Regions from separate parts of the Homo sapiens genome. Here regions 2, 3, 4, 5 and 6 are each reported to be linked to region 1. Evidence: microRNA targets listed by miRTarBase, many of them from high-throughput screens and not tested one by one. Region 1 holds a microRNA gene; each other region holds the end of a gene's coding sequence.

Evidence for each region. Region 1 holds the annotated microRNA hsa-miR-6823-5p (UCAGGGUUGGUAGGGGUUGCU, at 1,405-1,425, opposite strand). A microRNA usually pairs through its seed, bases 2 to 8, with sites in the 3' UTR of a target mRNA and lowers its output. Matches are read on the target gene's strand: a 7mer-m8 pairs with bases 2 to 8, a 7mer-A1 pairs with bases 2 to 7 and ends in A, and an 8mer does both.
Region 2: the mRNA of CTCFL is a reported target of hsa-miR-6823-5p. The part of its 3' UTR that is shown has no 7-base or 8-base seed match.
Region 3: miRTarBase lists ATP1A2 as a target of hsa-miR-6823-5p. Seed matches in the 3' UTR shown: 7mer-m8 at 1,898-1,904 and 7mer-m8 at 2,164-2,170.
Region 4: miRTarBase lists TRIOBP as a target of hsa-miR-6823-5p. Seed matches in the 3' UTR shown: 7mer-m8 at 2,080-2,086 and 7mer-A1 at 1,069-1,075.
Region 5: the mRNA of LARP1 is a reported target of hsa-miR-6823-5p. Seed matches in the 3' UTR shown: 7mer-m8 at 1,002-1,008.
Region 6: the mRNA of KLHL8 is a reported target of hsa-miR-6823-5p. Seed matches in the 3' UTR shown: 7mer-A1 at 584-590, 7mer-m8 at 2,094-2,100 and 7mer-m8 at 2,611-2,617.

The regions. Positions count from the first base shown.
Region 1 is chr3:48,548,592-48,552,679 of GRCh38, forward strand. MIR6823 (microRNA 6823) reads right to left here and starts at 1,430; the gene lies at 1,370-1,430. PFKFB4 (6-phosphofructo-2-kinase/fructose-2,6-biphosphatase 4) reads right to left here. Exons shown (of 14, transcript NM_004567.4): 2 at 1,527-1,643; 3 at 1,273-1,369. RefSeq lists enhancers at 1,841-2,504, 2,505-3,166, 3,167-3,830, 3,831-4,088.
Region 2 is chr20:57,495,187-57,499,274 of GRCh38, reverse strand. CTCFL (CCCTC-binding factor like) reads left to right here. Exons shown (of 11, transcript NM_001386993.1): 11 at 574-2,109. The coding sequence ends at 725. Among named protein-coding and RNA genes, the nearest start is that of CTCFL, 28 kb to the left of the region's middle. RefSeq lists an enhancer at 365-414.
Region 3 is chr1:160,140,464-160,144,551 of GRCh38, forward strand. It overlaps ATP1A2 (ATPase Na+/K+ transporting subunit alpha 2), which reads left to right. Exons shown (of 23, transcript NM_000702.4): 23 at 831-3,128. The coding sequence ends at 859. Among named protein-coding and RNA genes, the nearest start is that of ATP1A4, 9.1 kb to the right of the region's middle.
Region 4 is chr22:37,772,165-37,776,252 of GRCh38, reverse strand. TRIOBP (TRIO and F-actin binding protein) reads right to left here. Exons shown (of 24, transcript NM_001039141.3): 23 at 3,489-3,652; 24 at 1-2,470. The coding sequence ends at 3,491. Among named protein-coding and RNA genes, the nearest start is that of H1-0, 31 kb to the left of the region's middle.
Region 5 is chr5:154,813,463-154,817,550 of GRCh38, forward strand. LARP1 (La ribonucleoprotein 1, translational regulator) reads left to right here. Exons shown (of 19, transcript NM_033551.3): 19 at 425-4,088. The coding sequence ends at 634. Among named protein-coding and RNA genes, the nearest start is that of MIR378H, 14 kb to the right of the region's middle.
Region 6 is chr4:87,159,765-87,163,848 of GRCh38, reverse strand. It overlaps KLHL8 (kelch like family member 8), which reads left to right. Exons shown (of 10, transcript NM_020803.5): 10 at 207-3,746. The coding sequence ends at 330. Among named protein-coding and RNA genes, the nearest start is that of KLHL8, 59 kb to the left of the region's middle.

The DNA of each region.
Region 1 (4,088 bases):
CTGGGCGCTGATGTAAACTTGCTATTTTGTGCGAGACTCCTGGCCTGTCTGAGCCTCAGTTTCCTCATCTGTAAAAGTAGGGGGTGACAATGGGCATCAAGAACCCAGCACACGGTAGGTTCAGACATTAGTCCTCTACTTTTTATCTGGCTCAATATAACCAGAGGGTCCAGCCTTGATTTTTACCCACAATTTGGCCATAGAAACCTGAATATCAGGCTCCCCTTCCCTTCTTGGTGCCACAGCCTGGCCCAGCCACACCGATGCAAGAACAAAGGCAGTCTCCAGTCTGAAGGTCCAAGCCCCACAGCAGGGAGTTCCTGCCCCCTGGTGGCCAGAGAAGGAACGGGTAGCCTAGTGTGGACCCCAGTGGCAGCCTGGTAGCCACTGGGCTTGATTTGGGGAAGTCACTAGAGCTGGGTCAACCTCTGCTCACTGCCCTATCCTGATGGCTGGGCCAAGAGCAAGTCTCTGCCACCCTAGGTTGATAAGGGGCTTCTCAAGACCACAGCTAACACCTCCTGAGAAAAGCACAGCATGGCTGCTCAGACCACCAGCTGGTGCTCAGTTCCTTGAAGAAAGGACTCAGTTCAAGTCTGAAAGTTGTTGAGGGTGGGGCGGTAGCATATACATATTTCTATCTCCAGAGTAACAGCAGAAGTGTGAACGACTCACCCAGCAGCATCTAGGAGATGTCAATGCAAAGCCAATCGCACCAGCAATCACACACCAAGAACATGCTCCAAATACACAGGAGAGAGCTTATCCTGGGGCAAGGGAGGAAGCCCCCCACCCCCAGCTCCATCCCTAAGGCCTGTATGCCTGCACTCACTCAGGTTCCCTTCCCCAGCAGCAGCCATCCCCACGGGGCGCTGGGGTGAGCGAGCGTGACCTCCAGGCAGCAGCTCCAACGACCTGCATGGGCTGAGCCCCTCTTACCTCCCTGAAGCTCTGTCCTTCCCAAGGGTTCCTTAACCCCAGGGCAGGAATGGCCCAGCCACCAGGAGGCCACACAACACACCCTCTCCTCTCATCCCCAAACCCATCACCTCCCACCCCCACCACATCCTGAGAGATCCAGAGACCAGCCTTGTCACACAGCCCTGTCACACAGCCATCAGGGCTGGGCAAGGCCAGGGCTCAGGAGTAGCTCAGTCATTCACCAGCAGCTCCACTCCAGGGGCTTCTCAGTAAATGGTCAGTAATGTGTTAGCTTTCTCCACACTGGGTCCCCCAGCAACCTCTCCCCCCACACCCAACACATATACTTACTTCCTGATTTTCAGGCCCTCTTCATTGTCGGGGAGAAAAAATTCAAAAGATTTGTAGGTCTTGACCACGTCCCGGCGATACTGGCCAACATTGAACTCTGGAGGGAAGGAGAGGCTCAGCTTTCACAGCAACAGCAACCCCTACCAACCCTGACCTTGACCCAACCCCAGGCCAAATAATAGAGAATAGGCCTTCTCTATTCTCTTCGTCATGCCCCACAAAGCTCCCCTTAGACAGCTGGGGCCAAGCCTCACCCCGAGTGGGCACACCAATCCAGTTCAGGTATCGAGTCAGCTTCTTGGAGATGTAGGTCTTGCCCCTGGCGGGCAGGCCCACCATGACAATGAGAGTTGGGCAGTTGGTCATGCACACTAAAAGGCAAGCAGCACAGTGTCAGATGAGGGCTGGGACCCTCCCAGCGCACCCCTCCCTCTCAGCCTGTGGTCTCTCAGCCTCAGGGCATGGGACTGGCATCAGACGTATCTTCTTGGCTTCCTAGCATCCCCACACAGCTCCTGGAGTGGCCCCAGATGCTGGTTTCAAGCCACCGTTGGCATGTCCCCCTTCCCCAGGCCCGCCTGGGCTCTGGCAGACACAGTGGGATCTCTCCAGCCCTTTTCATCCTGATGTGCACCACCAGGCATAAAGTCAACCGAACTTGCCACTGGCTAAACATGGCTAGGGGGGTCCCCACCGCATGAAGGACAGGACCAAAACCCAGCAGGGTAATCAACACCCTGCCTCTGTCATCCAGGAATCCATACCCTAACCTTTTTACATCTCTCCCACCCCATCCATCACTCAGTGCTCCCAGAACACATAGCCCCACTGCATGCCCTCCCTGTGGTGAACTTCTTTTCATCATACAAAGCCCAGCTAAAAAGTCACTTCCTCAATGAGTCCTTTCCCCAAGGCATCTCCATGGCCACCGGGAACACCCCTCACCCTCAATCCTGGTCACCTCACTAATGACACTCTTCTCTCTAGACTGATCACTTACAGCAGAAGAAGCCCTGTGGTATCTGAGCCCTTTAGGGCCCTGGGGCCTGGCACAGCGCTGGTGCTCAGGAACTGTGGGCAGGATCAGGGAGGGAGGCATCTAGAAGTCTCTCAGGGTAAGGACCACAAGGGGTTGAGACCAGAGACCCAGACTGATGCCCACAAGGACAGTCCCTCTGATAGCCCACCCACCACCATCCATGTGCCACAGGTCAGTGTGCCAGCCAGAGAAGATGCCAGGCTAGAGGCACGGAAGGATCTGAATACAGCCCCCTATATTCCCAGCTGGCTAGAACAGATACCAAGGCAGCAGAACTGCCAGCTTCATCTTATGGGACCTAGCTCACTTTTCTTTTTTTTTTTTTTTTTTTGAGACGGAGTCTCACTCTGTTGCCCAGGCTGGAGGGCAGTGGTGCGATCTTGGCTCACTGCAACCTCTGCCTCCCAGGTTCAAGCGATTCTCCTGCCTCAGCCTCCCAAGTATCTAGGATTACAGACACCTGCCACCACACCTGGCTAATTTTTGTATTTTCAGTAGAGACGGGGTTTCGGCATGTTGGTCAGGCTGGTCTCAAAACTCCTGACCTCAGGTGATCCGACTGCCTGGGCCTCCCAAAGTGCTGGGATTACAGGTGTGAGCCATCACCTCCAGCCTTCTTTTTTTTTTTTTTTTTTTTTTTTTTTTTTTTTGAGAGGGAGTCTCGCTCTGTCGCCCTTGCCCAGGCTGGAGTGCTGGAGGACACTGGTACCCAGCTCACTGCAACCTCTGCCTCCCGGGCTCAAGCAATTCTCGTGCCTCAGCCTCTCAAGTAGCTGGGATTACAAGCACATGCCACCACACCTGGCTAATTTTTGTATTTTCAGTAGAGACAGGATTTCATTATGTTAGTCAGGCTGGTCTCGAATTCCTGACCTCAGGTGATCTGCCTGCCTCGTCCTCCCAAAGTGCTGGGATTACAGGCGTGAGCCCAGCCCTCAGCTCAGTTTCCAGTGCCATCAAACGCGGTCTCACGTCAGAAGCCTCAGGAAGCTTCCTTTTCCTCATCCTTAGGACCTGGGTCAGGTAAAACCATAGCAGACAGGCAGATGAACAGATGTGGGGACCTGTCACTGCCCCTCTTCTTGGTTCTGCAAGTGCCTTCACCTGGTTGCCTAGACAGACTGTCCCCACCAACAAGTTGTTTCCCTCAGAGCACAGAGGCCCCAGAAGCACTTCCGCAGGGGATCAGGAGTCAGGCCTGGGTTGCCATCTTGAGTCTGACACTCATTGGGAACTCTGAGCCTCGGTGTCCCCAGCTGTAAAATGGGGCAGTCATCCCTCAGAGAAGCCTAGTGCTATCCAAGAGCCTGGGCACTTCTGGGAAGCTGTGCCCTCTGTCCTACCCTGGCGGATACTGAGCTAAAGCCATAGGTGTACCTCGGCACCGACTGCCCTTGGGACTCAGGGCATGGAGGCGGTGGCCTGGCCCCAGGCAGGCCCTGCAGAGAAACAAAGGGCCTTGCTTGCCAGTGGGGGCTCCATCACTCCTGTGCATTCCCCTTGTTTAAAGGTGACCCAAATGGTGAGCCTCAGGGGCGGGAAGGAGGAGACCCCATGAAACAGGCTGACTGAGTGAGAGTGGAGAAACTTGCAGAGAACTCTCAGTATTAGCTAAGGTGAGAGGAAAACAAGTTAGGCAAGGCCTTGCCTCCTCAGGGCCGGTGGACAGCTGAGGCCCGCATTGTGCATTGTTTGCATAGTTCCCGGCCAGGTGGCCGGGCTCTCAAGCAACCAAGGGCAGTGCGACAGCTGCTAAGCAGGAGGAAATCCTGCATCT
Region 2 (4,088 bases), not on the chromosome of region 1:
GGGACAAATGTCCTGCAGGCAACTGGCTTTCTTCATGTAGGCAGCATCATTACATGGGTACTGGGACAAGACTTAGGTGAGCAGCTCAGCCACAATATAAATCTCTGAGATCCGCCTCGATATAAATCTGTAAGATCCACATTCACCTATAGCAGCTGATGCCAGCTGGGAATGACTGTGTCCCCCCCCCACCCCCCCCCCGTCACCTTCAGGGGACACTGGCAATGTCTGGAGACATTTTTATGGTTTTTGCAGCTGGAGAGGAGGGTGCTACTGGCATCTAGTGGTAGAGGCCAGGGTCGCTGCTAACATCCTACAGTGCCCAGAACAGCGCCCTGCCCCCAGCAGACAGCTCTCTGGCCCCAAACGTCTGTAGCGCTGAGGCTAAGAAGCCCTGACTGAAGGCAGTAGTTGAGATCAGAATAGTACCATCTTATCAATTAGATTGTTTTCTAACATGCTTGCTGCCGTGTTCAAATTTAAGTGATGGTTTCCAAAATATATTTGCACAGTTTATAAATTCCAATTCCTTAGCTTTCTGATAAATTTGCTCATCCTGGACTTTTTCTCAAGAAGCTGCTGCTGAGGAGGCTTCCACCACGAAGGGAGAACAGTTCCCAGGAGAGATGTTTCCTGTCGCCTGCAGAGAAACCACAGCCAGAGTCAAAGAGGAAGTGGATGAAGGCGTGACCTGTGAAATGCTCCTCAACACGATGGATAAGTGAGAGGGATTCGGGTTGCGTGTTCACTGCCCCCAATTCCTAAAGCAAGTTAGAAGTTTTTAGCATTTAAGGTGTGAAATGCTCCTCAACACGATGGATAAGTGAGAGAGAGTCAGGTTGCATGTTCACTGCCCCTAATTCCTAAAGCAAGTTAGAAATTTTTAGCATTTTCTTTGAAACAATTAAGTTCATGACAATGGATGACACAAGTTTGAGGTAGTGTCTAGAATTGTTCTCCTGTTTGTAGCTGGATATTTCAAAGAAACATTGCAGGTATTTTATAAAAGTTTTAAACCTTGAATGAGAGGGTAACACCTCAAACCTATGGATTCATTCACTTGATATTGGCAAGGTGGCCCACAATGAGTGAGTAGTGATTTTTGGATATTTCAAAATAGTCTAGACCAGCTAGTGCTTCCACAGTCAAAGCTGGACATTTTTATGTTGCATTATATACACCCATGATATTTCTAATAATATATGGTTTTAAACATTAAAGACAAATGTTTTTATACAAATGAATTTTCTACAAAATTTAAAGCTACCATAATGCTTTTAATTAGTTCTAAATTCAACCAAAAAATGTTTTACTCTTATAAAAAGGAAAACTGAGTAGGAAATGAAATACTAGATTAGACTAGAAAATAAGGAATAAATCGATTTTACTTTGGTATAGGAGCAAGGTTCACCTTTAGATTTTTGTATTCTCTTTTAATTATGCTCCTTGGCAGGTATGAAATTGCCCTGGTTACATTCCATTATTGCTTATTAGTATTTCACTCCATAACCCTTTTTTCTGCTAAAACTACTCTTTTTATATTTGTAAAATAATTGGCAGAGTGAGAAGAAACATAAAATCAGATAAGGCAAATGTGTACCTGTAAGGAATTTGTACTTTTTCATAATGCCCAGTGATTAGTGAGTATTTCCCTTTTGCCAGTTGACAAGATTTTTCCACCCTCGAGCAGCGTGAGAGATGCCTCTTTAACACTTGAAATTCATTTCTATCTGGATACAGAGGCAGATTTTTCTTCATTGCTTAGTTGAGCAGTTTGTTTTGCTGCCAACCTGTCTCCACCCCTGTATTTCAAGATCATTGATAAGCCCTAAATTCAAATTCTTAAGATATGGACCTTTTATTGAAAATATCACAAGTTCAGAATCCCTATACAATGTGAATATGTGGAAATAATTTCCCAGCAGGAAGAGCATTATATTCTCTTTGTACCAGCAAATTAATTTAACTCAACTCACATGAGATTTAAATTCTGTGGGCTGTAGTATGCCATCATTGTGACTGAATTTGTGCAATGGTTTCTTAATTTTTTTACTGTTATTTAAAGATGTTTTACATAATTCAATAAAATGAAATGACTTAAAATTGCTATATTTGTTATATGTCAGCATTGGTCTTTAAAAACATCTTCTTTGTCTGGAGAGAATGTGGAGAAATTGGAACCGTTGTGCACTGTTGGTGGGAATGTTAAATGGTGCAGCCACTGGGGAAAGCAGTATGGCAGTTTCTCAAAAAAAAAAAAAAAAAAATGGAAATAGCATTAGTATCTGACCCACCAATCCCACTTCCAGATATACCGTATACCCAGAAGAACTAAAAGCAGAGTCTGAAAGAGGTATTTGCACACCTATGTTCATAGCAGCATTTTTCAAAATAGTCAAAGATGAAAACAACCCAAATTCCATGGACGGGTGAATGGGTAAACAAAATGTGGTATATACATGCAGTGGAATATTATGTAGCCTTCAAAAGGAGGGAGACCCTCACACATGCTACAACATGGGGGAACCTTGAGGACGTTATGCTGAGTGAAATCAGCTAGTCACAAAAGGACAAGTATTATATGATCTTACTTATAGGAGGTATCTAGAACAGTCAGAGTCATAGAGACAGACGGTAAAGTGATGTTTGCCAAGCACTGAGGGGTGAGGGAGAATGGAGAGTTAGTGTTTAGTGGACACAGTTTATTTGGGATGAAGAAAGAGTTCTGGAGATCAGTCATGGTGATGGCCACACAACAGTGTGAATCTACCTAATCATTCCACTGAACCATACATTTAAAAATAGCTAAAATGGTAAATTTTATGTTGTGTTAGTCCTTTCTCACATTGCTATAAAGAAATACCTGAAACTGGGTAATTTATAAAGAAAAGAGTTTTAATTGACTCATAGTTCCGCAGGCTGTACAGGAAGGATGATGTTGGTATCTGCCTGGCTTCTGGGGAGGCCTCAGGAAACTTACAATCAAGGCAGAAGGCGAAGAGGGAGTAGGCGCGTCACATGGTGAAAGCAGGAGCGAGAGAGGGGGAGGCGCCACACTCCTCTGAACGACCAGATTCCTTGAGAACCGCCACTGTCATGAGGACAGCACCAAGCGGATGGTGCTAAATCATTCCTAAGAAACCGCCCCCGTGATCCAGTCACCTCCTACCAGGCCCCACCTCCAACACTGGGGATTACAATTCAACATGAGCTTTGGCCAGGGACAAATATCCAAACTATATCATGTATTTTACTACAACCAAATGTATGTTAATTTCAAAAACAGATAACATAAATATGTTTGAAAACGCAAGCCAAGTTGGTATCTAAACACTGTTTTAAATAAATAAATAAAACTCCTAGGCCGGGTGCAGTGGCTCACTCCTGTAATCCCAGCACTATGGGAGGCCGAGGCAGGTGGATGACCTGAGGTCAGGAGTTTGAGGCCAGCTTGGCCAACATAGTGAAATCCCATCTCTGTTAAAAATATAAAATTTAGCCGGGCGTGATGGCAGGTGCCTGTAATCCCAGCTACTTGGGGGGCGGAGGCAGGAGAATCACTTGAACCCGGGAGGCGGAGGTTGCAGTGAGCCGAGATTGCGCCACTGCACTCCAGCCTGGGCAATAGAGTGGGACTCCGTCTCAAGACGAAAGCTCCTATAAGCACACTTTTATAAATAGTTGCAGTGTTTCGTGTGTGCAACACCTGTTGAGATGTAGAACAAAATTCAGATGAGATGATCAATACCTACTCAGTTACGTGCGTGACTCTCACCCACACCTGGCAAGAAGGTGAAACACCTGGTCCTCAAGTGCAGTTAGTGCTTTTGATACCAAAATAGATGCAGTGACAATAGTGCCCGCAAGAGGGCAGTCGCTTCTGTCTTTTCCGATATTGAGACAGGTTCACTATTCGAGAGTAGGAAGCACGGAAAGTTATAGCAAAGTCTTGGCGATTTTATTAATTCCGCGATACAGAACGAGAACATTTTTTCCTTGGCAAGGAAGAGAAGGGACCTTTGCAAAACCTGGGAGTGAGGACACCAGTTGGCTCTGAGTTCGTGAATGCTTGGTGAGTGACATGCTTT
Region 3 (4,088 bases), not on the chromosome of region 1:
AAACCAAATACTGTCCAGGAATACTGTTTGGTTTGACCTGTGCCATATTTTGTGTGTGTGGGGGGAGGAGGGTGGATTAATTGGTCCGATATAGAAAATTTAGGGTCTTTCACATAAAATCTGAATTCGACTTCTCCTGAAGATCAGAAGAGCTGTTAATCCCATGTCCACATCTCTGCACAGCAAGAATGGACAGCTGCTCCCTTAGACTCTCGTTCGTCACCTGAAGAGGCCCTGTGGGCGTTTGCATTTTCACCCTCGACCTATTCTGCCCCAGCCTCCAATGTGCTAAATACAAGTCTCCCCTAAAGGCAGGTTCACCCTCCCTTCCTTTAACCTATGGCCCCAGCTCACTGGACCTCCTTCTCCTCCCTTTCACCTTCTTTTTTTTTTTTTTTTTTTTTTTTTTTTTGAGACGGAGTCTCGCTCTGTCGCCCAACCAGGAGTGCAGTGCAGTGGCACGATCTCGGCTCACTGCAAGCTCCGCCTCCTGGGTTCAAGCAATTCTCTTGCCTCAGCCTCCAGAGTAGCTGGGATTGCAGGCGCATGCCACTATGCCCGACTAATTTTTTGTATTTTTAGTACAGACAGGGTTTCACTGGGTTAGCCAGGAGTCTTGATCTCCGCCTGCCTCAGCCTCCCAGTATGCTGGGATTACAGGCATGAGCCACTGCACCCAGCCTCCTTCCACCTTCCTAAGCCACTTCCCCCAGTGCCCTTCACCAGGCTTCTCCTTCCACCTGGCTTCAGCGACCCAAGCCCCTAGGAAATTGATCTCTTGCCTCCTTTTAAGCTCATGCTGCAATCTCCACTCCCAATCTCTCTAACAGGCTGGGTGGAGAAGGAGACATACTACTGACCCCATTGGAAGAAGAACCAGGCATGGAAAGATGGGGAGCTCTGGAGGTGTTGTGGGGATGGTGATGGAGAGGGATGGAAATAACGGGTGGCATTGGGTGGCAACATTTGGGGAGAGATAATGAGGCAACTCAGCAGGCTAAGTTGCGGGGTATATAAATTGGGGTGATGACCCCATAGACCTAACTGTGAACAATCAGATTAGACACTATGTGTTAGAGTCCCCCCGACCAGATCCTTTTCCATCCCACTCCACTATGTTGTCTATTTTTTCTGAGGAATTAAGGGTTACCCCACCCTGCCCACTCCCATCCCTTCAACCCCACTTCCTACTGTAATAGATCAGCATCCAAAAGCAGGAACCCATCTAAACCAGAAGGAAGCCCTCTCAGATCACCCCAGCCTCACTCCATTTCCCACTTCCACCCCCGTTAGCTTCCTGCAGGACTCTATCCCTGGCTTCCCCTTCAGACCTTGCAATCACAAAAGGTTCTTCTGGTGAGTGCAAGAGCCTGAGACTGGAAAAGGTGGACTTGTCTCCCAGTCGAGGCTGGTAAGGGACCTTCAGGGAGAGCTGGGCAGACAGGTGGGAGATGGAGGTAGGGCTGGCTGGAGGAAGGAAACAACAAAGGAAGTGAGGTAGTGCCAATGACAGGACATTTGACATGAGTCTCCAGATAGATGTCGTGGACTCCAGCTCTACGTCCCACATTTTAGAATACCCCACCAGCAGAACAAACTCAGATCTCATCAGGGTAGCAGCAGAGGCAGGACCAGAAGGCAATCAAGAGCTTCCAGAAATGCCACACTTGTGTGCCACAGAGTTCCCCGCTGACCCTTGGTTAGGGGTCCTCTTAGTCCACAAGGTCCGGATGTCACTCATGTACTTAATAACACTTCACCTTCTGTAATACTAAGTCCTCAGAGCTCCATGCTGTTCTGAAAGGGATGGCCACAAGTTCTTTCCCAGCCTCTTCCATTCCCTTTCTTTTCATGCCCATCCCGATGAACCTGCATCATTCCCCGACACTGCCAAGCCAACCCTGGAAAAGGAGTTCGCTGGCCATTGGCTAGAATCAGGGTGGAGAAGTTCCCTGAACCTTCCTGTCTCCCAGGGACATGTATGCTTCCAGGGACAAGCTTAGGTCATGAACATGGTCAGAACCTTTGGACAAGAGGAAAAATACTAAGAGATTTGCTTTTTCTGGGTGCGGTGGCTCATGCCTGTAATCCCAGCACTTTGGGAGGCCGAGGCAGGTGGATCATGAGGTCAGGAGTTCGAGGCGAGCCTGGCCAACATGGTGAAACCCTGTCTCTACTAAAAGTACAAAAAATTAGCCAGTCATGGTGGCACACGCCTGTAATCTCAGCTACTCAGGAGGCTGAGGCAGGAGAATTGCTTGAACCTGTGAGGAAGAGGTTGCAGTGAGCTGAGATCGTGCCATTACACTCCAGCCTGGGCGAAAGGGTGAGACTCCATCTCAAAAAAAAAAAAAATGATTTGCTTTTGACGTCTTAGGTGGCAGGGCTGTTCCCTCCAGGCAAATGCCCTTCAAACCGACGATCATTGTGCCCACTTACCCTGGGCTGGAGAGTTGGTTTCAGGTTCCTACAGGAGATAGCTTTCTTTCCCTTACTCCCTATCTAACACTTTTGCTCTGCAGGCAGCCTTGCCCATTCTCTAAGCCTGGCTTAGAAGGCACTGGGAATGTCCTGTAGAGAGAGACCTAGATAGGTCATGCAAGTGAGAAAGACATCTGAGGAAAATGGAAGACCTAAGGCAGACAGGAAGGAAGCACAAAAGACAAGCATTGGGTCAGACCCATAAACCACCTCCCAAAGGCTGTCATTTCATTGCACTGGAATTTTGCTTTATCAGAAGCAAGGAAGTAAGGGAGTCATTGCCTTGGGCCTGGGAATCTAAGTGGGAGACAATATTAATTTGGATCCGATTAATTGGAGATTACTAACTGTGGACAAAAGTTTATCTTTGCACAATCAATAAAAATGGCATTTTTTTAGTAAATTAAGAGCATAAACAATATTGCTAGAGGTGGCATGTTTAGTCTACCAAAAACAATACTTTTCAGGCACTTTAGAAATATCCTTTTAGAAGCAGCGAGTGCATGGGCTAATTATCATCAATCTTTATGTATTTGTTAAAGAAACATCTACAGGATCTTTATTGGTGACCTTTTGTAAGACATTAGTTTGAGGTACTACCTATGTACTTGAAAATAATAAAGTGGCATTTCTTTATGAAAAAAAAAGAAATCTCTTCCATAATTCAGATTTCTACACTTTATACTTGCCTCCCTCCTAAATCGTGATATTGAAATATGTGCTGTGGCAGAACTCGGCTTGTAGGGAAAGCAACAAAGAGATAGCAAGTGTCAGGGATGGGAGGGAAATGGTCTGGGAGCAGATGATGTCCGTGGAGAAAGCAAGAGGGGAAGAAGTTAGGTTGCAAAATAACCTACAAGAAACTATAGCAGGAGCCTCCTTCCTCATGCTGATCCCACCCTAAGAGCCACAAGAGTTTGTCCAGGACAGGGAGGGGCCTGTGAGTCTATTAAGAACAAGATCCTCAGGGGCACTTCTGCTTTTTCTGTTCCAGACCAAAATCAGGCCATTCTCTATCTGATGGGATGGGGGAAGGAGATAGTGGGTTGAGGAGCCCAAGAGTCAACACCAATTCACAATCTGTACTTCATGCAGAGCTTTGTCCTGGGTGCTCTCTTTAAGGGGTGGGGGTAAAGTGGATGCAATCCTTGAAATTCACCTGAGTAGTAGACATCAGAAACCATCATGGACAGAATGTAATGAGCAGTAGGGGGGACGCTTGTGTGCTGGAGATGGAGGGGTGGGTGGGTGGGTGTGCATTGCTCCAGGGGGGCCCTGGGAATGGGAGAGAGAAAGACACCAACTCTTACAACCTATGCCAGGATTTCAGAATAACGGTCAGAAGTCAATTCTTGCCCAAGCCATATTGCAGCCCCTTTATTATGACTCTTAACAGTGTCATTAATGACAGTTATAGTTAGTAGTGATTATAAGAGCCTTAATCACAGCTCATTTTGTGCCATAACTATGCCAAAATTTTATTTGTATAGTCTCCGTTCATCCCACCACAGGGCCTTTATTCTTGATGGTCCCTCTGCCAGGAACACTTTTCCCTAGTTATTCACATGCCTGGCTTTGTCACTTCATTCAGATCACTCCTTAAACAT
Region 4 (4,088 bases), not on the chromosome of region 1:
TAGTGGGGCAGTGCGATTTCACGGTTTTTAATGAGATGTGGAGCACCTTTCAGAGGCTGGCCTGGTTTTTGTAGCTGCCCTAGGCAGCCCTGAGGAGGGATGGGAGGGGGGTTGGTGAAGAGGATGTTCCTGCAACCCAGGTGTGAGACGGGGGAGCCCTGAGTTAGGTTGAGGCTAGAAGGGAGGCAGAGGATGGGATGGAGAGCTGTCTTGGGGGGACGGTGGGATGGTGAGGATGGACGGCAGAGCTGCCAGTGGCAGGCATCCCATCTCCCAGTGGCTAGGAACACTCCTGATCTCCTAAGGCAAGCAGTGCCGAGACAGGGCAGCACAAGGCCGGAGGATTTGATGGCACGGGGTCCTGGCTCTTTCTTCTTTGCCATTTTTAGCTATTGATGAGGGAAGATGGCGACAGGGCCAGGAGAGAGGTGTCCTCTCCTTGCGCCACCCTCCCCCTTTTTTTTTGAGATGGAGTTTCGCCCTTGTCACACAGGCTGGAGTGCAGTGGCGCGATCTTGGCTCACTGCAACTTCTGCCTCCTGGGTTCAAGTGATTCTCCTGCCTCAGCCTCCTGAGTAGCTGGGATTACAGGTGCTTGGCACCACGTCTGGCTAATTTTTTGTATTTTTAGTAGAGACGGGGTTTCACCATGTTGGCCAGGCTGGTCTCGAACTCCTGACCTCAAGTGATCCCCCTGCCTTGGCCTCCCAAAGTGCTAGGATAATAGGCAAGAGCCACCGCGCCCGGCCTCTTGTGCCTCTTTTTAAGACCAAGGACACCCTTCCCAGATGACCTCCTCCACCCCACTCCCAAGACTTCCCCTCGCATTTCACTGGCTTGCGTGAACTGCAAGCCTTGTCCATTCCTCAACCAATCCCTGGCAAGGGAATGGGAAACAATCTCTTCCCACTCCACGAGGTCACTCTCCTGTGGCTCTTTGCCTGAACACACCAGGGACGTTTGCTCCTGCTGGTGCCTCCACGTGGGAAGGCCCTTCCTGATTCTTCCATCTGGAAGAGTCATCTTTCAAAGCTGCCTCCAAAGGCAGTCTTCTACCTGCAGGCTGGGTCAGGGTCTCCTCTGGGTTCTCACAGCCTTCCAGGACCCCTACTGGATGTGGCCTGTTTCTGTGGCTCAGAAATGGGACCTCTTCCCAGCCCCATGCAACCATAATCAGCACAGCCAGCCATGGTGAGGACTCCCAGCCCGCTGGACCTGTGCCTGGCAGCCACAACCCTGCCCTCACCCCTGCCCAGGGCTGGGCATGACCTCTGGGAAAAGCCTCAGGAGAGGACTGGGACTGAAAGAAAAACACCCATTTGATGGAGAAGCAAACTGAGGCTCAGTGAGGGGTGTGACTTGCCCAAGGTCATGGTCAGGGCTAGTCTTAGCCCCAGGCCTCTCTCTCAGGCCTGGGCCCTGGGCCCTACTCCAGGGCTCCTCAGACTTTGAAGGTCACGTGAATCACTGGGGCACCCTGTTAAAATGCAGACGCTGGTTCAGTAGGTTGGGGTGGGACTGGACTTGCTATTTCCCACATGCTTCCGCTGCCACTAGCCTGCAAGCCACACTGGGGGCGTCACAGTCTGTACTAAGGGAGACCTTGGATTTTCAGCCCCACCCTCAGAAGCCTAGAGGCCGCTGCTTTAGGAAGGGTGGGGTGTGGGTAGGGTGTGAGTGGGGAAGCCACTTCAAGAAACCCCAATCTCCATTCCTGTTCTGCCAGCCATCTAGGACACCAGAGCTGCTGGAACGTTTTATTAAGTTAAGAGGTTCAGGGAGCAGAAGAGAAACACCTTTTGGGTGGCTCTGGCGGTTCTGCACCCAGCACAGCCTCGAAGGAGGCTGTGGGGCCATGGAGGCCAGCTGCTAGCTCCCTCTGTCCTGAGCCCCATGGTACGGGTCCAAATGGGGCAGGAAGTGTTAGTAGGAGGTAGGGCAGGAAGAGGGTGGCAGGCTCCCGCCTCTCCCCTGTAGAGACACCCCGCCATGGCTGCTGCCTGGGCCTCCGCCAGACCTCTGGGCCAGGGCCACCAGCTCAGAAGCCCAAGCAGAGGGTGGCTGGAGACAGAGGGGGACCAGGGTTGGAGGCACACAGCCACCAGGAATTGCTTTTTTTTTTTTTTTTTAAAGTATAAAGTGTTTTGGAAAAAAAGGAAAAAAATCTATATAAAAATCTCTTCACATATAAAATCCTGAAGAAGGTGCAAGGTGAGACCCAGTGCGAGGGGCGCGCTCAGATATGCAGTGTGTGTGTGTGTGTGTGTATCCGTGTGTACATGTGTGCACGTGTGTGCGTATGTGTCTGTGTGTCTGTGTGTGTGTGTGTGTGTGTGTGTGTGTGTGTGGTGGGTGCAAGTGCACGTGTGGCCCACAGAGGGTGGGGAGAAAGCTTGGCTTTTTACTTCCATCCAGGAGGGAAGGAGGGCGGCTGGTCCTCCAGCCTGGAGGGTCTGCAGCTGGGCGGGACCTGAAAGACAAGGTGCGGCAGGGCTGAGGCCTGGGCTGAGGGGCTGCGAGGCCACCCCAAGGCCAAGCAAGGGTGCTGAGTGGGTCCTTCCACCACCTCTCAGCCCCTAAGGTACAGCCAGATCCGCTCTTCCTGGCTCCTTCCCAAGCAGCTCAGCCATAGGGTGGCCTCTCCTGCATGCCATAGGAAGTCCATGAGGACTTATCAGAAAGAGGATGCTCCAGGTAGATGTGGCGTTGAAAAAGCAAAAATAAGAACACTTTGGCCAGGTGCAGCGGCTCACACCTGTAATCTCAGAATTTTGGGAGGCTGAGGCAGGTGTATTGCTTGAGCCCAGGAGTTCGAGACCAGCCTGGGAAATCACGGCGAAACCCCACCTATACAAAAAGTGCAAAAATTATCTGGGCATGGTGGTGAGGGCCTGTGGTCCCAGCTACTCAGAAGGCTGAGGTGGGAGGATCCCTTGAGCCTAGGAGGTTGAGGCTGCAGTGAGCCGTGATTGCACCACTGCACTCCAGCCTGGGTGTCAGAGTAAGACCTTTCTCAAAGCAACCAAAACCAACCAACCAACCAACCAACCAACCAACCAACCAACCAACCAACCACTTTGAGCCCTGCTAAGTCAAGAAGGAGTGTTAAGACTAACTGGGATAGAAGCCCGGCCTCAGCGTGCGATGTGTGTGTGTGAAGCTCAGTGGAGATTCACTGTGGGGGTCAGGGATGTGCACGCTGCATTTGCCTCCAGCCCCAAGAAGGGGGGTGCACTGAGTAGGCTGTGGCTCTGCACTGTGCCGCCCAGCTCTGGAGGAACAGGCTTAAGCTGATGAAGCAGCCTGTGGCCCGGGTCTGATGGGATCTCTGCAACAACCCCGTGTTGCTGGTTTCATTGTCCTTTTTACAGAACGGGAATTGGAGGCCAGAAGAAGGAAGTGGCCTGGCTGGGGTGGTCCAGGGAGTCCCGGGTGTGGGAGAGCCTCAGCCCCTGCCCACCCTGCAGGGCACACGCCTCGGCATCCACCTCTACTCAGCCAGGCTGTTGCGCATCGACTCCTTCTCCTGGAGGGCGGCCATGGCAAGACGCAGGTGCTCCTTCAGCTGCTCGATCTCCCGCTCAGACCGTGTCTTGATGTGGCTCAGCTCCACATAGACGTCCTGGTACTTTCCCGAGGTGAAGCGCTTGTCCTGGGGGGCAGGAGGCAGGTATGAGGGCATGAAGTCTCTCCCTCCAGCCCTGCCAACCGGGCACATGGGCAGCACCAGCAGCCAGACCTCCCCGCAGATACCTCGCTTCATCCCTCCAGGTGGCTCCCCAAGATGGCCGTGGGTTCTGGGCTTACCCCTCCCACCTCCCTGGTACCACCCAGGGACACAGGCGTCATTGTCATCCTCATCCTGTTTCGGGGGAGAAGATTTTGACCAAGACCGCAGGGCAGTGAGTGGCTGGGATGAGAACCAGGTCAGCCTGGCTGGGTGCTCGGGCCCTTCCTGTGAGTTCACGCCACCTGTTCTTCAAGTGCGGTAAACACGGTCTGGCTCACGTGCACTTACAGAGCCACCAACATGTCCACTTCCTGCCCCAAACTGACAGAGCGCACCAGGCAGTGACATAGCAGCCAAG
Region 5 (4,088 bases), not on the chromosome of region 1:
CAGCATACTGCATGCCACATTCCACATTTCTGAGCAAGAGATCCCTTCTTGGAAGGGAAGCAGAAATGAGGTTGGATAAAAGCCTGGCCTTTTGGGGCAGGTAGACCTAAATTTTGTCTTTATCGGTTACCAGCTATGAGACCCTGGGGAAGTTACTTTTTTGTGCTTCAGTTTCCTCATCTATAAAATCAGATGTCCATGGGTCCACATCAAAGGGTGATGCTGACCCCATGAGAGAGTGTGCATAAAACAGCACAAGGCTTGGCATGAAGAAACGCTTAATAACTTATAATTTATTTTTAAGGTTAAACCCATTCATTTTCTATATTTGGAGGTAGAAAGTAGGAAGTGTCTAGACGGGCCTGGCAAGGAAGAGGGCGTAGATAGTGCTTCTGATCACCTGTGACTCCTTCCTCTGTTGCAGCCCCCCATGGGTGAGGAGGGCAACCACAAGCGACACTCAGTGGTAGCAGGAGGTGGCGGCGGTGAGGGCAGGAAGCGGTGCCCCTCCCAGTCTTCCAGCAGGCCTGCTGCCATGATCAGCCAACCCCCTACACCACCCACCGGCCAGCCTGTCCGGGAAGATGCCAAATGGACAAGCCAGCACTCGAACACACAGACTTTGGGAAAGTGAAAAGCTCCTTAGCCCTGGGGCTTGAGGGGGGAAAGGGGTAGGGTGGGTAAGAGTCCATGGGGGTGCCCAGTCCCAGGAAAGGGGACAATGAAGGGACAGGCCTGGAGTTACTAGGACAGGCCTTTGTGCTGAGTAGCAATGTATACACCATTTGGGCTATCAGAGGTACCCCTGGGCAGGAGCCTCTACATCCCCTTCCCCCTCCTCTCTCCATGACTCTTGACATCCTAGCTTCTTCTAAGGGGGGAGGGAAAGGGGGGAGATTTTTATATATATATACATATATATATATCAAGTTTTAAATTATTGATAGTTCATCTGGATTACCAAAATCACTCTGCAGCCCTGCCCGAGGCTAGTAGGCTGCAACCCTGGTCCCCACCCCTAACCTCCTGCTCCCCCTCAAGCCAACTATGCAGCCCACAAGAAGGCCCTGCGGGCCCCCCCATTGCCCAGCACTGTCTCATAGAAGGCTCTGGTGGTACCTCTGGGCCCCAGGAGCATCAGCCCCTTGATCATCTGGGGTTTGTCATCACCATATTTTCTCCCTGCTGTTCCCACCATGCCCTTCTGCCATCTTCTGGGAGAAGGAAACCAAAGGATCTAAAACTGGGGTTTGGGGGAAGGTTTCAGCCTCTCCCCACTCCCCTTGCCCCACACCCTTTACTCCCCAGCCCAGAGAGACGCTGCTTTTACCAGGAAAGACTATTGAAAGATGTTTTATTTTATTTTTCTCTGACCTTTCCATCCTTGAAAAAATGGGGAAAAAAGAAGAAAAAAGACAAAATCGACCATAAAAGACCAAAAAAAAAAAAAAAATCAGAAAACCCCCACCTAATCCACAGAAAGTAATGTCTTTCCCCTCCCCTTGGAATTTTTGTTTTGTTTTTGGAAATAATATTTTTTTAAAAGTTGCCTTATTGTGGAGCGGGAATCTGAAATACCCAAATGCCTGTTTTCCTCGGTGGAGTCAACCCGAAGAGCTCCCACCTTCTCTGGATGTGCCTGGGCTTGGACTGGCTAGAATCTTTCTCTGGACTGTTGCATGTACAGTGCCTCCATCCTGGAGGCAAGAGAGTTGGGAGTGGCTCGAATCAGAGCCGTGCCCAAGATATCCCTGCTGTTGCATCGTTTGAAGCTGACGTCCTGTGTCTGTACACTGCTGCCACTGTTGTGTCCTCGCTCTGCTTGCTGTTGCCTCACGCCAGGCCCCGTCCTGCCGTGACACCCTTCATCCTACCCTTGGAACCCCAAGGCCAAGTTGGTTCAAACTGTTGGAGAACAGAGTTGGCCTGCATCTGGAACACACTTGTCCTCAGCTTACCATCTCCTCACACCCCAGAGTGGAAAGGTGAACACCTGCAGCTGAGGCTTGGAAACGTTTCTTGTGTTGCCCTGAAAAATCTTTGAGACCTCAGGGAGGCTCTGTCTCTCTTAAAAGGTGGAGAAAGATGCCATTCTCTCCCTAAGGTCTGGTGGAGTCTCCCCATCTTGCATACCCTTCTGCAAGCCATCTATCTCTGCTCACTCTCCAATTGACCCGCCTGGGAACAAGGGATGAGGAGGAGTTGGGGGCTGGGGGGAATCCTGCCAGTTGGTGAAGCCCTGTGGCAGGAAGGTATATGTGGACATAGAGTATACCTGATTCTCTTTCTTCAGCCACTGACTGCTTGGGTTGGGCTGTGAATGATAATGGAATGGCTGGAGTCTGCTGTTGTCAGAAGGCAGGGAGGGTGATGAAGGACTGACCCACATGGACTGGGATGTGTGTCGGTTATGGGCATGACTGCACGTTCACTCTCAGTGGGATCTGGGCAACATGGAGTTCATTGTCCTGTTGCTTACTTACTGCAATGTCTTTGGCCCTCCTTTTCAACTGGTTCCTCTGTTGGGCCCAAAGGTTGGGAGTAGGAGACAGTATCCCAGGCTGACAAGGGCTTGCCCTTTACCTTGGGCACCTTGTTAATTTTTAGCCTGTGCCCTTCCCCACCTTTGCCCTCCCAGTGGTTGGTATGTGGGAAGCCCATCTCAGTTCCTGTGACTTCATGTCTCAAACCAAGGATGAGCGTCTGGTCTCTGCTATGATGGTGGTATCCGAGGCCTTTCCCTGCCCAGTCTGGTGCCTGCCCCACATTGTACCGGACACTGGATTCCTGGACCCCCTTCTCCTTTCCTTTCTTTCCTTCAGGTCACGCAGCCCTGTACTGTATCCAGCACCACAGAAACCTCAGTGTTTTTCCTCTGCTGGTTTGGGGCACAAGGAAGCCTTAGGGTATGGGGAAAGGCTGTTATTACCTAGAGTTTACTCCCAGGCCAGGGGGCTGCCATCTTCTTCACAGACATCCCTGAAAGGAAGCCCCTTTGGGGCAGGGAGGTGAGGACTTCATCTCAACATCGGCTGGTGGTTGGTAGGGGAGCTTTTTCTTTTCTTTCCTTTTTTTTTGTTTTTGTTTTTGTTTTTGTTTTTGGTAACATGTTAGGAGTTAATGTTGCAAAGAGTAGTTTACATCTTCACTTTCTGAAGACACTTGAATTTAGGACCGATGTATCTGTGACAAGCATGCCAGAAGTGGCAGGGGCCATCAGGGCTAACCACTTCACACCTACCATCGTCCCATGGGGATCCAAGACCTGAGATAAAGCAACAGCCTGCCCAGATCCCTCTGTTCATCCTATCCCTTCCAAGGTTGGTCCATGCCAACATAACCTCTGGGCATCAGACATCAGCAGGTCTGTGTGCCTCAGCCCTGTTAAGGGGCAGGTTTCTCTTTAGCCCTCTTCCTGCACTTGGGAGCAAAGGCACTACCAGTAGAGAAGGGCCATCCAGCCGTGCCCCAGCCTGGACCCCTGGGGCTCAGATAGAGGTGCTGAGCCCCTGTGTCAAAGTTGTTAAATGTTTTTGTTTTGTTCCATTGTAGCTCTTTTTTTTTTTTTTTCCCCTTTCCTGGTGATTGATTTTACAAAAGAAAGTAAGCTGCTTAGAAGGCCCTGGAAGGGAAGTGAGGAGGAGGGACAAGGAAGATGACTAGTTACGGAGGGTGAGGGTTGTTTTTTGCCAAAAAGCCTGGGTAGAGTGATCTGAATTATCTGGCACCCTCCTGAATGGAACCCCAGAGTACCTCCTGTGTGGAAGGGTCCCTGGATTTTCCCTAACACCCACCCTCTCCCCCTTCAGCCATGCTGATGGCAGAGAAGATAAGAACTTGGAGCCCATTTCTCACTGGAGAGGAAAACTTGTCATCTGGCTTTGCGGAGAAGGTTCCACCTTACGCTCGTAGTACATTATCTTTACTATGTGCTAGGATATCATATTTAAAAGGACAAAAAAATGTAAAATACTTGAATGAGCTTGTATTATAACATTAATATTATTGAGAGTATCTGCTTTCCAGGCTGAAGTGATTCATTCATTATTCTAGTCCTGCTTTAGTCCTTTGTAATTTGTGGTAATTAT
Region 6 (4,084 bases), not on the chromosome of region 1:
ATTATCTTCTGGTATAATAGTAGATTACTTCAGAGTGTTAAAATGTTGCTAGTCGTAGTTAATACTAAGCTTTGGGATATCTTATCTCCCACTGGAAGCTTGCTGTCCTACAAAACCAGTCTCACATAGGGAATTTTTGTCTTTGGTTAGTATTTTGAGTAAAGTAAATTATGCTTTGTAACATTTTTTCTTCTCCGTCTTTTCAGGTGGGAGCTTGTTGGATCTGTGTCTCACTGCAGAGCTGGAGCAGGAGTAGCTGTGTGTTCCTGTTTAACTAGCCAAATTCGAGATGTAGGTCATGGATCCAATAATGTGGTTGACTGTATGTGATTTGAGTTCTGGCCACCAACAATTTAGTCATATCTGATAGGTACAAAAGAAAACCAAGATTTTGATATGACCACCTTTCAACACTTTTTACTGCAACTAGAGTCTTATTTAAATGTTAACTGTTGTATTGTGACTAAGTACAACTTTTGGAATGATACCTGAAGAATTATTAGTAATAGAGTTAAATTTGATACTTCCTGCTTTTGCAAATAATGGAGTAGGGAAGAAGATAGTCGAACTTAAAATCATACCTACCCTGAAAAATGCTTAAAGTAGTGCCAAAAATCTTGAAATCTCTCTCTCTCTCTCTATTTGGATGAATCAAAATGTAATTTGTTGAGTTTTGCCTTTTCTTTTGCCTAAAGATGTTAACGTCAGGCAGTGGGTTTTTCCTAGAGGAGAGATTAGTACCTATTCATTAACACAAGGATACATAAGAGACTTGCCCCTTTTGAAGATCATTTCTACTTGGTGCTGATGAATTTATGCCTAGCTTTTTTTTTCTAGGTGGTGATTTTTCAATTTCTTTTATATTTACGGAAGTAGAAAAAATGTTCTGTCTTTTTGAATGCCACTTAGCTGCATTTTCAGAAGCTTATAGGCTATAAGAAGCCTTTAATTTCAGTTTGAATTGCTAGGACACCAAAAGACCTAGCTGGGCTAACTCCATCCAAATGATTTTACAGTTTTATTTTTTCATCTTTTGCAAAAAGTATTTGTTACATAATCAAAAGGTGAACCAGAGGAAATATTGAACAAGGTTTTAGATCTGATGTTATTCTGGTGCCCAATTGAGAGACCTTGAGAAAGAATGATGCAGATTACATGACTCTAATGTGGGCAGTCTGAAAATATCTTTAACTGTCTTCTTTGATCATTTGATTTTGGATCCAAGATTTATCATCTCTCTATTTTGCTATTTGCCACCATCCTGGTTTTTCTGACTGTACAGAATCAATCTGCATTTATTTATTATCAGAAATGAATGCATTTTTACAAAAACCTTTTTGTAGACTGTAGTTTATTGATTAGTTCAAGCCCATCACGAACTAATTAAACATATTGTTGGTAAAAACAGAGATTGAAATTACTGTTTTTATCATATTTAAATCCCTCTGGTGTATTTATTGAAATTTAATTAAAAATATTTCTACATATTGATTTGAAGCCAGGATATTGATGGACCTACAGATTTAACAGCTCTTCAAAGTTTTAACTAGCATTATAAAATGGCCTATTCATTATATGTATATTTTTTTATAAATATTTATCAAGAACATGAAAATATTTTATTTTGTATTTGCAGTGCAGTTTGGCACCTCTCTTCCAGGCCTTCCTAAGTTTTTGTTAGTTGTGTCTTCGAATTTATTGTAGTTCACCGCTGGTCAGTAATCTGGTTCATAAGGAAGCTGGGGCAGTGAAAAACACTTCGTTGATCCATCCAGCCCTAAAGTTCATTGACTAATAGCTCATGCATCTTATTAAATGGGATTCTGGACTTCTACAATAGTGTGGAAAGCCACATCACAAAAAAAGCCACATCACAAAAAAAAGCCAGTGCCTATTGAGTATATCAAACCAAAAAAGAAAAAAAAAAGTTTTAAGAGGGGTCAGGCTGGCAGATAAAAGTCTCTTATGAAGCAGATATAAATCCAGTAAGCTATTTTTTTCTACCTATGGGCAAGTTCATAAGTCATTGCTGGATCTGAACCAGTGTTCTTTTGTGTAAGTACAACCATATTTCAGTCAGTCCAGAGGCAGTTAACCCTGTAGCACTTACTAGACTGGTGACAACTGGCTGGATGTGGAGAATAAGTGTCAAAACCTGGCTTCAATGTCTATTTCTTATGTCTAATGGAGTTCTTATATTACAGTGTTTGTTTAGCTATGGTTACTAATATGTTTGTTATATTTATTTTCGGGGAGAGGATCTTGTTATTGTTTCCTGAGATTATTTAAAATGTTTTTTCTTTGATGTATTTCTGTCTTTCTTATATGTAAGGAGTTATAAGGGTTATTATATTTTCATTTCTGGTTTTTACTATACAATGGTTATCTAACATACTAAGTTGGTACCCTACCTACCCGTAAAATATGAAATACTCAGAAGTAAAGTGTGTGGGCAATCAGAAGCATAGCCTTGAAGGACCTGACAGCAGTATGAAAAGATAAATAGGCCAGGCATGGTGGCTCACGCCTGTGATCCCAGCACTTTGGGAGGCCGAGGTGGGTGGACCACCTGAGATCAGGTGTTCAAGACCAGCCTGACCAACATGGTGAAACCCTGTCTCTACTAAAAGTACAAAAATTAGCCAGGCGTGGTGGCGCATACCTGTAATTCCAGCTACTCAGGAGGCTGAGGCAGGAGAATTGCTTGAACCCAGGAGGTGGAGGTTGCAATGAGCCGAGGTTGAGCCATCGCACTCCAGCGGTGAAACAAGAGTGAAACTCCATCTCAAAAAAAAAAAAAAAAAAAAGATAAAAAAGCAGAATCAATATGTGCACAGTTCTCTTTATCAGGCAAAAACACGTTTATTGAGACATGAAATGAGAATCAGGCTGAAGGAATCATGCAGCTGAAAGATGATTATATTCATAGAAATGAAGAGATGAAATATTCAAAGAAGATGGCTACTTTATTGTGAGACTTACCACTTTAACCTCATATGTTAACAGCACCTACCAAAAAATGATATGAGATAGAGCTAAAATACTGAAATTGCAAATGGACAAAATAAATCATGAAAATTTGTTTATTATTTCTTCAATAAATATTTCTAGGTGCTTTGTGATTCTTTCATTTAGTCATTAAAGCCATTGCTTTACTATATTGCGTTGCCACTTTAAAAACAAGTTACTTGACATTGTTTTTGACAGATTTCACTATATACTTATGTAATTAATTGATTATTTCTAAAATGTTTGAATAAACTTTGTACTCCCTCTAAGGAGTATTTTATTCATTCTTTTAATTCCCAAATGAACTTTGAACTTACAGTGCTGTTGAATGCCTTGGTAAGGACTTCTTGAAATTGCATAAACTATTCTTGTAAATGGTAAACTTGAGAATTTTCTTTGTTTCTTTTTTCTCTATGTCTTAAAGAATGCCTTTAGAATCTAATTCATGTTGTATCAGTTAAGAATGTTTCTGTGGTTTCTCGTATCAGATGTGTAAAGAAATTATTACTGGGATGCCATTGGCTATGTCTCTTTCCCCTTCATGTAAAATTCCAAGTGTCAGTAAAACTTCTCTATAATATTTTCTTAAAACCATTTATAAATTTGTGTTATAATACTCCAGAAAATCAATGTAATAAGTGGTCATATATATCACCAACTATGGATATCAAAAAGTTGGGGTCACATCAGTGCTATTTATTTAATTAAAATACATTGCATATTTCTATTAGCACAAACTTCTCTCTAAAAGGTCTGTGTAACTGCTTCTCATCATTATTTGATTGCTGTTATGGGATCCTGTCAAAACTGTGTAATTGTTTATTCTCCATTCCTCAAATACAAAATTGAGTAGGTTGGCTATATTTTTCTCCTTATATGAAGGATCTTTATGTTTAACTGAAAATTTTAGAAAGCTTTTCGTTTTCCCTTATGAAAATTAAAGGTTGAAGGTAACTGATGTAAGTAGTTTCACTGATCTTAAGCAGTTGTCTCTTCAGTAATTGCAGACTTGTACTATATAGAAATGAGACTATGCATTAGGATGACTGTTGTCCTTCCAAGTAGAAACCTTGCA